Linked DNA regions of Homo sapiens: regions 2, 3 and 4 are each reported to be linked to region 1. The links are microRNA targets in miRTarBase. Many come from high-throughput screens and were not tested one by one. Region 1 holds a microRNA gene; each other region holds the end of a gene's coding sequence.
The links. Region 1 holds the annotated microRNA hsa-miR-301a-3p (CAGUGCAAUAGUAUUGUCAAAGC, at 1,846-1,868, shown strand). A microRNA usually pairs through its seed, bases 2 to 8, with sites in the 3' UTR of a target mRNA and lowers its output. Matches are read on the target gene's strand: a 7mer-m8 pairs with bases 2 to 8, a 7mer-A1 pairs with bases 2 to 7 and ends in A, and an 8mer does both.

Region 1 (3,000 bases):
TAGAAAATTATAAGGTAGCCAGACATTTAAACTTTTAGGTATTGTTTGAATGATGGGGTAGTATTTAAATTCTTTTTGAAGACAGGAAAAAAAGAAATGAGGTTTTTTTCCTTTCTTACATCCTTGCAAGTAAATTAGTGGTAGCTTTTTTTTTTTTCCTTTCAGGTTATTAGTTTGTTTCCATAATTATTAGGGTTTAGAAATGAATTTTTATCATGGCTCTAATTATTACTGCTTTGTGTTGACTAGATAATAAAAGACAGTGCATCTCATCTTCAGATTTACCATGTGCTTCTAGAAAAAAATGTTATACTTGTGGACCAGTTTATTTTATAAGATTTTAAGAGTAAATGATTCCTGTGCTATCTTCTGATTTTTGGTTTTACATCAGTTAAATAAAGGATTTGTCAAGGTAAAAGGAAATGCATAATATTTAATTTGAAAAGAAAGTGTTTATCCTAATTTTGTTAATACCTTAAATTTTTTAAATATTTTTCTTGTTTGTAATAACTTCCAATTCAGAAAGTTAAACACTTATCTTTTAAACAGTTGTCTTTAAAACCTGAAACTTGGCTACCAGCGTTAAATATTCTAATATTTTAGTTATGTGGCCCAGGATTTGACACCAAGACACTTATATTTCAGCTGTCCTTTGTATGAGCCCATTTCCTTAGTAGGCTCAATCCGACTAAGTAGTTGAATTGGACCGTTTAAAGGGAGGTTGGTGAAAATAATGAAAATATATTTTTGCATCAATCAACATTACTAATGGGGGAATAAGCTTATTGTAGGGCAATCTTTGTTCTCTGACTTTTTCCCCTTCACTTAATGATGGGGTGGTATTTGTTTAGCTTTGTTCTTTCGTGGTACTACTAGTGACTGTACACAAAAGGTAATGCAGTGTGATACTATGATACTATTTCTGTTTCTGGGTTTACATCTGACTTCTGATTGGGTTCTTATCCGTTAAAAAAGTTAAAATGTCAATTAGCTTGGAACTAAGGAAACTTGTTACTTAAATCTCAGTCCCACCTCCCCCCATCATTATTTTCTCTTTGACATTTCTAAGTTTGAAGGAAATGGAGATGCTTTCTGCCTCTATTTAAGATTTCAGGAGTTAACTGAAATTTTAAAATCCCCTTGGATAGTATTCAGTTAGATAGGGTTAATGTTCTGTTTAGAGCACATTGATTCCCTTCTGTTGTTATGACAGCCCTTAGTAAACTCAAGATAAAAAGCTGTAAGATGGTAAGTGCTTTTGTGTTTTCTTTGTTTAGTGGTTTAGATTCCAGAGTGATAGATTGAGTATGTAGAGATTGAGAAACTTATTATTTTACTTTTCATTTGTTTTCTTTGATACTTTTATTCAAAGGGCTTGTTTTACATGGCGTTTAATCAGTAAATTGCCTTGAAGAAGGAGCTAACCAACATCTCTGCAGAGAACAAAAATATTTTTCACAACTTTGCCTTAGTAGTAATTATAACTGGTTTTGTTAATACCAATCCTAAAGTATTAACAATACCCATTCTAATTACTATTAAGGCTTAGGGCATATTTACAAAATTCCTTTCTACATCTATGCATGTTTCTGTTCGAATGTTAATTTGTATATTAGTCATCAATAAGCAACATCACTTTGATATTTAAGTCTTATCCTTTTTTAAAAAAACATTGATATAAATGTTTTTTGGTTTTGGATGTTTTTCTGTCCAAAATGGCAACCCTACTTTAAATTCGTTTCTCACTGAAGCTTCAACCGATGCAAGATGCTTTTGTGTTCCTTTCCTACTTATTACTGCTAACGAATGCTCTGACTTTATTGCACTACTGTACTTTACAGCTAGCAGTGCAATAGTATTGTCAAAGCATCTGAAAGCAGGATGCACGCCAGAATTTTGATTCTTACCTTACATCTTTCTTCGGTATCAGTAAATAATTTACCACAACCTTTGTTGCTGAGAACTATAATGTTGTTACTAACAGTATATCTTTTAGAAAGTCATAATTTGAAAAAAAAAAACCTTTTAACTAATTAAAAACAATATTTTACTGCATTATGAAACACGTCTGGAGAATATTTTTTATATCTAAGTTGTTATGGTTTGTCTAAATGAGTAATACTTTATAATTTGTTGCTTTCTGTTACATATTTGGATAGGTTCTGTCAAACTTTAGGTTTTATTTGAGTTTTATGATGAATTGGTAGTGATGGAAACAATTTCTGCTGTATATTTTTCCTGCAGTTACTTGCCCCAAGTCATTTTTTTTTCTCCAGAGACAGAGTCTTTCTCTGTTGCCCAGGCTGGAGTGCAGTGGCCCAGTTACACCTCACTGCAGCCTTGTACTCCCGGGCTTAGATAATCCTCCCTCCTCAGCCTCCTAAGTAGCTGGGACCACAGGCGTGTCCTACCATGCCTGGCTAATATTTTCTTGAAATTTTTTGTGGAGACAGGGTCTCACTGTGTTGCCGAGGTTGGTCTTGAACTCCTGGGCTCAAACAGTCCTCTTGCCTTGGCCTCCCAGAGTGCTGGGATTATAGGTGTGAGCCACTGTGCCTAGTCCTCCAAATCTTAATTGGTGTTAATTTTGTGTATTGTCTAGGAAATGGTTGAATTTAAAACCTAAGAGTGTTTGTTTTACAGTTTATTCTTATGAGATACAATAGTGTGGATTCATCACTTTTAAAAAATATGAATTTTATTGAGATACAATTATATAAAATAAAAGTAAGTAAGCTATTTGTTAAGCAAAGCCGAAGTCTTGCTGTGTTGCCCAGCTGGAGGGCAGCGACTATTCACAGAGGCAATCATAATGCAGCACAGCCTAGAACTCCTGGCTTCAAGCAATCCTCCCACTTCAGCCTCCTGAGTAGCTTGGACTACAGGGGTGTGGCATGCCCAGTGAACTGACGAGTTTTGACAAATGTATACAGTCATGTAACCACCACCACAGCCAGGATATAGAACATTTCTGTTACTTTACAAAAAGCTCCTTTGTGG
Region 2 (3,238 bases), not on the chromosome of region 1:
GACCCATCTAAAGTCAGAGTAGCCCATAAGCTAGGACTTTTGCATAAGTGATAATGCAGAAATTTGGCTGTGGAGCAAAAAAAAAAAATTTTTTTTTTTTTTTTTTTTTTTTGAGACAGAGTCTCACTCTGTCACCCAGACTGGAGTGCAGTGGCATGATCTCAGCTCACTGCAACCTCTGCCTCCTGAGTTCAAGCGATTCTCGTGCTTCAGCCTCCCAAGTAGCTGGGACTACAGGCTATCCTGCTAACCAGTGGTTCTTAGCTGGGAACTGTTTTGTCCCTCAGGGACATTTGGCAATGTCTGCAAACACTTTGGTTATCACAATTGTGGGAGGGGGTTTAACTGGCCTCTAGTGGTAGAGGCCAGAGATGTGGCTAAATATCCTATAATGCACAGCAATAGCCACCACGACAAAGAATGATCTGGCCCAAACTGCCAGTAGTGCTGAAGTTGAGAATCTCTGTTCTAGACCATTAAAAGGGGGTAGAATTGGCCAGGCGCAGTGGCTCACGCCTGTAATCACAGCACTTTGGGAGGCTGAGGCAGGCAGATCATGAGGTCAAGAGATCGAGACCATCCTGGCCAACATGGTGAAACCCCGTCTCTACTAAAAATACAAAAATTAGCTGGGCGTGGTGGTGCATGCCGGTAGTCCCAGCTACTCGGGAGGCTGAGGCAGGAGAATCACTTGAACCCGGGAGGCGGAGGTTACAGTGAGCCGAGATGGCAGCACTGCACTCCAGCCTGGTGACAGAGCAAGACTCCATCTCAAAAAAAAAAAGTAGGGGGGAAGGGCATAGAATCATGCACCTTATTGCTACCCTGTGCTATACCAATGTTTCTCAACCACTAATTGGCATATAAATTGCCTGGGCACCTTGTGAAACCACTTTCTAGGCTTGTTTTAAACAGAGAATTGGTGAAATGTAATTACCAAAGCTAAAAATAAAAGAGGTCTGGCTGGGCGCAGTGGCTCACGCCAGCATTTTGGAAGGCCGAGGTGGGCAGATCACCTGAGGTCAGGAGTTCGAGACCAGCCTGGCCAAAATGGTGAAACCCTGTCTCTACTAAAAATACAAAAAATTAGCCGGGTGTGGTGGCACATTCCTGTAATGCCAGCAACTCAGGAGGCTGAGGCAGGAGAATCGCTTGAACCTGGGAGGCAGAGATTGCAGTGAGCCGAGATCGTGCCACTGCACTCCAGCTTGGGCAACAAGAGCAAAACTCTATCTCAAAAAAAAAAAAAAAAAAAAAAATTCCTTTTTCTTCTAACTTGGTCAGTTATAAATGTGTATTTAAGATTGTCTTAAATTTTGGAAATATGCTACTAGAATTCAACAAATGAATTCACTGAAGCATGTTTTTGCTTACTTCATTATAAGAAAGCTATGTCTAGAAACCATGTATGGAAAGGGAGTCAAATTTGCTGAATCATGCTTTTGCATATCAAGTTCTTAAAAGAAAAAACTGGATCCTACTGATATCTGAGGTAATTCTATAGCAATTAAAATACCTGTAACATTCTATCAGGCAGTAAGTTACAGAAGAAGGAATTTATATATATATATATATATTTTTTTTTTTTTAGTAGAGATGGGGTTTCACTGTGTTAGCCAGGATAGTCTCGATCTCCTGACCTCGTGATCCTCCCGCCTCGGCCTCCCAAAGTGCTGGGATTACAGGCATGAGCCACCGCGCCCAGCAGAAGAAGGCATTTAGAATCAGAACTCAGTGTTTTGAAACAGCACTCAAATCTTAGAAAATTAACTTCACTGATTCCTGGAAAATGCTTACGTTTTAAAACACCAACTTTATTCAAATACTAACCCCATCTGTACATTAAGAAACAAGCAAAATAGAAGTAAATGTTTTATTCTTCCAACTAAATTCCAGTACTACAAGGGCAGTAAAACAATGATACACTGGAAAAAAAAAAATGCAGCAATAAACATTTGTTAAAAAGACTGATAGAATAAATAAAACTACAAAAAAAAAAAAAATCATACAAACCCATTCTGAAACCCCAAGAAGTCCTGGAATACAGAAATGCCCTCCTCCTTCACTATTTCACAGGAAGCACTGCAGGCTATTTGCTTAATATTGTCCTGGGATTACATTCTAAAATTAGTAACTGGTTACAGCTCGGTTGTAGTGCACAATTAAAATCACACTAACTTCATCTGAAGTGTCATTCTACAGTTTTATTTACACAACCAGTGAAGGGCATGTTCTAGAATACCAGCTTTAATCCTTTTCAAACATTAATATAAGAAGCCAAATTGTAATGATACAGCAAAATGAGGCCACTGGTATTAATACAGGTAGCAAAGGTCCACATCCAGGTGGTACTGACATCAGGGAAATTTCCAAAACCAGTTGCTGCTGCCTAAGAGTGGTTGCCACTGACGAAAGCTTGAAATAACCTGTATTCACAGAAGGGGTATTGGCATTGCTGCATGTCATAATTGGGACCTCTTGCAACAACTCAACAAGGAACAAGGCAGCCCACAAATGCAGGATACGTGATTCATGAAACATCTAAAGGGTGAGAAAAAGAAAATTAGTGCAAAATACAGGTCAAAATCCAAACGAATACTAGATCTTGATTCCCAATTTTGCCCCTAGGTATTTAAGTAACCAAAAGACTTGCAAAGTTATGCTGCCTATTTCCTCCATACATTCTCAGTAATTTTGTTGAATTCTCTTTTTGAGTATGAAAATAATTATAATGTCTTCTCCTTAAAAGACAGTCTTATTTTCAGTTTATAACTTCAAAGGTGAAATACTTACAGCTAGCAGGCTGTTCTCCATATCGTCGCATTATTTGATCATGCGTAAACTTCACAAACGCATCATATTGTTCTATAAATAAAGGTACTTGTCAATTACATTTGTAAAATGCCTTATTAGAGCCAGATAAACTGAAAACACAAAATATACAGTAAAACAATTCTAAGTTGACAAAATCACTTACATAACCTCAGTAGTACTAATAGTGTATCAAATAAAAACAGCATGCAACTTATTAGTCAGGAAACCTAGGTTTTAGTCCAATCACATGACCTGACATAAAGGCTAGGTGAGATTTATTTATTTCCTAACAAAAAGGCTGGGACCGGGTGCGGTGGCTCACGCCTGTAATCCAAGCACTCTGGGAGGCCGAGGCGGGCGGATCACAAGGTCAGAAGATCGAGACCATCCTGGCTAACACGGTGAAACCCCATCTCTACTAAAA
Region 3 (3,235 bases), not on the chromosome of region 1:
AGGGCCTCTAGAAGCTGTGAGCAGCCCCCAGCTCACAGCCAGCAAGCAAACAAGGACCTCAGCTCAGCAACAGCAAGGACGTGAATCCTGCCAATAACAGAAATGAGCTTGAAAGAAGACACCAAGCTCCAGGTAAGAAAGCAGCCAGCCAACACTTAGAGCCTTGTGAAACTCTAAGCAGAGAACCCACCCATGCTATTCTAGACTTCTGACTACAGAACTGTGAGATATTAAATGGGTATTGTTTTATGCCACTAAGTGTGTGGCAATTTGTTATGCAGCAAAAAAAAAACTAATGTCAAGGAAGTCATTTTTTTACTTCTACCAAGGTTCACAAGGTGGTAAAATTTCACAAACACAAGGGTTCAGATACGAGGTGACCAAATGAATGGTAGAATATGCTCCAGGGGATAAGGGAACTGTGCACTATGTAAGATAAGCGATTTAGTCCTGCAGGTTTATGCCAACTACGAGAAGAAACAGCATGACCCATCTCCTAAAAATGTTCTAGTCTTCTAGGGCAGCTGATGCCAGCATGTACCCAAAGAGAAAAGATTAGTCCTCTGAAATGTTAGCTACAGATACCTTTTAAATAGAGCTCTGATTTGGCCAAAAACCCAGGAAACTGTATACTTAACTGAAAACAACCTAGAGTAAAATAAATCACACCAGCACAAAAGGACAAGTATCTACAAAATCTTTATAAATTCACATATTTTTCTGAAAGTGTACAAGCAGTCTCAATTTACTGGGACAAAAATGAACATTTTTGTTCTTTAGTAATGAAGTCAATGTACAATTCAGAGCAGGTGTCCATAGAAACAACTAGGTTTGAAAAAACTTAAGACAATTCACAGTTGAAATCAAACAAACACTGTGAATGTGTTAAATACTTGCCATATAACAACACTTTAACATTGATCTTGCTAAATAAGGCTATGATTCATAAGATGCATGTATTTCCAAAGCTGTTTAACATTCTTATAAATTAATTCACAGGATTCAAATAGTTGCTTTTTAGCTTCAACTGGGTATTAGCAAAAATAATACAAAATGATCCCCGTGCAAGCACAAATTTACCTTCCTTCCTAAATAAAACATGACAGATTATATTACAACTTGATAGCCTCTCTTTTAAAAAGTCTGTGACATTATTAAAGAGGTGACGGAATGCTTGTTTTGCAAACCCCAACACATCTTTCACTGTGGACCATTGCTATTACTTCATTAACACAGTTGCTCAGATCTCAAGGTACTCACGGTCTGAAATATATTTTACAATTAGAAGGTATGCACAGGTCAAAAAGAGCAATCCAAGGGTTAGAAGTCCCCAGTGCCCCACACTGGCTCATTGCCGAGGTGACAGGGTGCAGGCTGTGTGAGCCAGGCACACTTACCCCTCAACTGGGCTTCTGTAGCTTTACAATTTGGATAACTAGTTAGCGGACAGTAGTTGGGACATGTCACATACAGATTTGAGTCCTCCAATAATGTACACTTTGCCAGGTTTTATCCCTTTGTTAAAGCAAATAGAACAGAGAGGGAATATAGCTGCCAGTAAAAATCATTTCCCCCCTCTTAATCTCCCATCCTTCATCTCCATGAAACCGACTATTAAGATAACCTTTCTCTCTCTGTGCACTAGTGGAAAAAGTAAAGTTCTATAGAAACTCACAGTTAAGAGGGACTCTGAATACAGCAAGTTAAGGCTTTTAGTGCAAATAGAATGAATTCCCACTAAGGTCAAAAGGTTTCAATTGGGTACCATGCTGACTTCTTGGTATCTTTTAAGGCCTAATTTTCCCTTCCTTGAGATTACTGTAGTGTGTTCCAGCTAATTTCTATTTGGAAACGAGTTGGAACAGCTGAAAACTAGGTATTATTGAAGGCAAAGCAGCCTCACGTCAGTTTTTTATCAGCTCATTTGGGAAGGTTTTTTTTTTTTTTTTTTTTTTTTTTTAATTAATTAGAAAGTAGGCTGGGCACGGTGGCTCATGCCTATAATCCCAGCACTTGGGGAGGCCGAGGATCTCCTCTCTGGTGGATCACTTGAGGGCAGGAGTTAAGAGACCATCCTGGCCAACATGATGAAACCCTGTCTCTACTAAAAATACAAAAAGTAGCTGGGCGTGGTGGCATACTCTTACAATCCCAGCTACTTGGGAGGCTGAGGCAGGAGAATCACTTGAACCTAGGAAGCAGAGGTTGCAGTGGGCCAAGATCACACCACTATACTCTAGCCTGGGCGACAGAGGTGGGGAAAAAAGTAGGACCCCTGTCCTATATTCAGGTTTTTCTCACATATATGAACCCATCTAAATTCTACGTTGTTAAAGGTAGCTTAGGTTAATTAGTCTATACTTATTTAAGAACAATATGGGGTGAGATGGATTTTTTTTTAAAAATCCTAAAGTAAGGCTTTCTACTTTCCTTCTAATGAGGAAAAAGGTGACAAAAATTCAAGTGTCAATGTCCCCTTCCTGGGAAGAGGTTTAGAAAAACAACAGCTCACCTTCTGAACTCTACCAGTTCCTTTTGAAGTTAACGAAGCATTAAAATCAGATGTAAAAAAAGAAAAAAAAAGGCAGGGAAATATTTACAAAACTGGACATTCTTTACAGATATACAATCTTGCTAATACTGGGAGAACCATACAAGGATGTATAAAGAGAGACAGTCACCTTAGTAATGCAAGGATAGAGAAAACCAGGATATAATATGTGTTTTTTATTGCCAGAACATGGTGAAACTAGGAGGAGCAGAGATGACCTGATCCCTGAAGTGAACTGCTCAGCTATTCTGTGTACCTCAGGAGGTCTGCAAGTGTGTGGTTAGGTAAAAACTGAGCTGTGCAAACTCACTGTATCCAAGCTCTTCTCATGAGAGAGCAGAACAACCTGGCAAGCTTAAAGGCAAGTGTTTTCGTTCTTTTAATTAAATAGGCTGTGACAAAATTAACAATAAAACTAGCCCAGAACCAACCAGCCCGGTAAGTGTCGTGCAAATCTTGCAGTAACAAAAGACCATCTGAGAGACTACACGTTGGTCTCCAGTCCTAGCAAGCGTCCCATTCTCTCCACATTCTTATCAATTGTAGCTTGACATGTTATCTCCTTGGCACATTCCATAGGAAACCAGCCTCTTTCTCCATCTCGTAGTCGTTCCCCCTCATACCAGCCTGTGAAAAAGAACAGAGTCCACACCAAACAACAAGTATTTGGAGTGTGCCAGGCTC
Region 4 (3,235 bases), not on the chromosome of region 1:
TCCTTAACTCATTCTGTAAGGCTAGCATCATTTTGATACCAAAACCTGGCAGATACAACAAAAAAGAAAACTTCAGGCCAATATTCTTGATGAACATTGATGCAAAAATCCTTAACAAAATACTGGCAAACCGAATCAAGTGACACATCAAAAAGCTTATCCACCACAATCAAGTAAACTTCATCCCTAGGATGCAAGCTTGGTTCCACATACGCAAATCAATAAAAGTGATTCATCACATAAACAGAACTAAAGACAAAAACCACATGATTATCTCAATAGATGCAAATTTTCAGAGGCTTAAAGTATTTATCTATATAATTGGGAATGTAGACTGTCCTGGATTTACAACTGTCCGACTTACAATTTTTCCACTTTGCAATGACTTAAAAGCAATGCAAATCCAGTAGAAGCCATACTTCAAGTACACATATAACTGAATTATTCATTCAGTTTCAGTCCAGCATTCCATAAATTTCATGAGACAGTCAACACCTCATTATAAAATCAGCCTTGTGTTAGATGATTTTGCCCAACTGCAGGCTAACATAAGTTTTCTGGGCATGTTTAAGTTACTCCAGGCTCAGCTATGATGTTTGGTAGGTTAGGTGTATTAAATGCATTTTCCACTTAATATATTCTCATCCTGCAATGTGATTATTGGGATGTCACCCCATCATAAGTCGAGATACATCTGTACATGCTTCTACTTGCTTTTTTTCTTAATTTTGAAGAAGGCTCAATAATTTCTGTGCTGGGTCCTAAGCACATATGGAATGGTGATCAGATTAAAAATTATCACTCATAAAAGACTGAGAAAAATTTCCTCTTATTCTCATTGGTTTTCTGAGCTTCCTTCCGCCCAAGAAAAGCAATAAATGCACTGAGAAAGAGTGTTCACAGGTGTTATAGGGGGAGAAGTGGGAGGTGGGACACATATGTAGCTGCCTCCTCAAGCAATTGGAGACATTGTCTCATTCCTGCGCAGCCCTGGGTCATGAGAGTGTGGTCCCATTCCATGCAGACCTGAGACTAGGATGGCTCACTAAGGCCTGGGACTGAGCCCTGAGTGCCACCATCACTGCTGGGCTGCAGAAATCATTCAGGTGGCTGAGTAGGGGACAGAAGACATGGTATTCCCACCCACAAATGGACCATGTGGACTCAGGAAGCCCGTATGTTCTTCCAAATGGTGGCTGTAGCTCCCCATCCCTCTGCAGCATCATAGTGAGGAGAGGAGGTGGCTCCTCCTACCAAACAAAGAAAGCACATCCTGAGATTGAATTTTCCAATCTTCAGGCAAGTGGGGGCTCAGAGTCAGAGTTCATTTGATTTACAAAAATACAGAAATGTGATATTTCTTGGAACCAAAGCTATGGAAACTCATGTGAACACATTCACGATTTATTAAGCTTAAATCATCTTTATTCAGCTCAGGAGTGGGGTGGCTGGAAGCATAAGCTTCAGGTCCAGGAAGATGGGTTTGGATCCAGCCTCTGCCACTTGCTCTCTGGAATAATACTCAAAACATTTAACTCCTCCAAGCTTCAGTGTCCTTATAAAAAATGAGGAAACAATACTGGTCCCGTGACATTGTGTAAAGATTGAATAGTACATAATATGCTGTATTAGAAGTGCTTGTCAAGGTTCTTGGCAAATGATAGGTGCTCAGTCAATAGCCTCTGTGTATAGTAACAGTTCTGGTAGTAATTTTGGTAGCTGGGGGGATGGTAATAACTGTGACAGCAACAAGTATCTTATTCCCATTTCACAGATGAAGACATAAGCTCTGGGAAAAAAAAATCTTCAACTGTCACTGATTACCTTGCCCACCCCACGACATATCCTAAGACCTGGCACGTGATAATTTTAATGAAATATCTGGGTGAATGGATTAATGAAAGGAGAAAGCAGAGCCAGTGGTGTGGGGGGTGGTGTGAATGCCCACTGAAATCTGAAGTAGGGTGCAGATTTGTTCATCAGTTGAAAGTTACTCGGGTCACATCTGAAGGCGGCTCTAGGTCACCCTAGAGGCCTAGGCTGGCTGTCTTCAGGTCAGGGGGCTGAGTTGCCATTCAAAGACTCAAAGGAGTGAATCGTACACATCAATCATGGGGTTGGCTTGGCCACCACCCTGCTGGAACACTACCTGGCCTTCTAACCTCATGGAGAGCCTGACCAGGCCTGCCACAGAGACCTCAGAGTGCCAGAGAATCTCCACTGTGTCCTTAGCTCTGCACAGTCAGGGCTTCCCCGAAGTCTGCCTCTCTCTGTCATTATGCTTGGCCAGGATTGCTCATCCTGATGGCACTGGGTTGCAGAGAGAGAGCTGAGGGGACCAGGAGGCAGGCACTTTGTGTGACTTTGGAGGGTCCTTCTACCCCAAGACCTCACTGCTGCCATCTGTAAGTGAAGGAACTGGACCAGATGGGGAATAAGGAGGGCTCCATCTCATGTCGAAGGCCAAGGCTAAGAGTGGCTGCCTGGGGTGCAGTGCTGGGAGAGTTTGCAAGGGGAGTGTCAAGGCTGGTCAGTGATTATGGGGAAGAGTCAGGGCCCATCAGAGGAATGAAGTGGCTAAGGGTGCCTCCAGTCCCAATAGCCACAAGTGAATTCTGTTGAAAGGGAGTTCTAGCATCTCACAGACCAAGTGGAGCCTCAGGATGGAGGCCGAAGGCCAGAGAGCGTCCTCCCTGTCCCATGGCCTAAATGCCTCTCAGAACTCACAGATGGTCAGTCGGGAGTACAGGCAGTTCCTGTCATTCCACTGCCCATCTGTGTACATCTCCACACACTGCTCTTTTCCCCGACCTGCGGGCTCCCCTCGGTACCAGTTGGTGTAGTTTACAGGGGTCCCGTCTGAGTAGCGGAAGTCTCCAGGGCTGGGACCCTCAGTCAGGCCTACATAGGCATATGTGTTGTACTTCTTCACGAAGCTTGCAATGGCCTCATTTTCCTCTGGATTCCTTGGGACAGCAATGCGGCCGCCTGCTCTGGCACATGCCTCCTGAATGGCATCAAAAGTGATGGACTGCCCATTGCTGGAGAAGACCTTCTCTCCTACTGTCATTATGGAGCCCTGCAGACTGAGGGCTGAGAGCAGAGGAGTCCGGGTCAGGCCACTGACCACTTTGTCTCTAAGCCACCTCCCTCACCTGGGGTCTCTGCTACCAGATTCTCCCCAGTCTCTCCATCTCTGCCTCTCTCTGTGTCTTCTCTTCCTCTTCCAATTGCA

Region 2: miRTarBase lists AKIRIN2 as a target of hsa-miR-301a-3p. Seed matches in the 3' UTR shown: 7mer-A1 at 2,153-2,159.
Region 3: the mRNA of ARHGEF26 is a reported target of hsa-miR-301a-3p. Seed matches in the 3' UTR shown: 8mer at 1,714-1,721.
Region 4: miRTarBase lists SFTPA1 as a target of hsa-miR-301a-3p. The part of its 3' UTR that is shown has no 7-base or 8-base seed match.

What each region holds. Positions count from the first base shown.
Region 1 is chr17:59,150,017-59,153,016 of GRCh38, reverse strand. It overlaps MIR301A (microRNA 301a), which reads left to right and starts at 1,796; the gene lies at 1,796-1,881. The region is part of intron 1 of SKA2 (spindle and kinetochore associated complex subunit 2); the gene reads left to right. RefSeq lists a silencer at 2,838-2,917.
Region 2 is chr6:87,673,067-87,676,304 of GRCh38, forward strand. It overlaps AKIRIN2 (akirin 2), which reads right to left. Exons shown (of 5, transcript NM_018064.4): 4 at 2,794-2,865; 5 at 1,794-2,541. The coding sequence ends at 2,531. It also overlaps a transcript of ORC3 not described here. Among named protein-coding and RNA genes, the nearest start is that of AKIRIN2, 28 kb to the right of the region's middle.
Region 3 is chr3:154,255,274-154,258,508 of GRCh38, reverse strand. It overlaps ARHGEF26 (Rho guanine nucleotide exchange factor 26), which reads right to left. Exons shown (of 15, transcript NM_015595.4): 15 at 684-3,178. The coding sequence ends at 3,036. Among named protein-coding and RNA genes, the nearest start is that of DHX36, 68 kb to the left of the region's middle.
Region 4 is chr10:79,613,595-79,616,829 of GRCh38, reverse strand. It overlaps SFTPA1 (surfactant protein A1), which reads right to left. Exons shown (of 6, transcript NM_005411.5): 6 at 1,387-3,093. The coding sequence ends at 2,717. Among named protein-coding and RNA genes, the nearest start is that of SFTPA1, 4.3 kb to the right of the region's middle.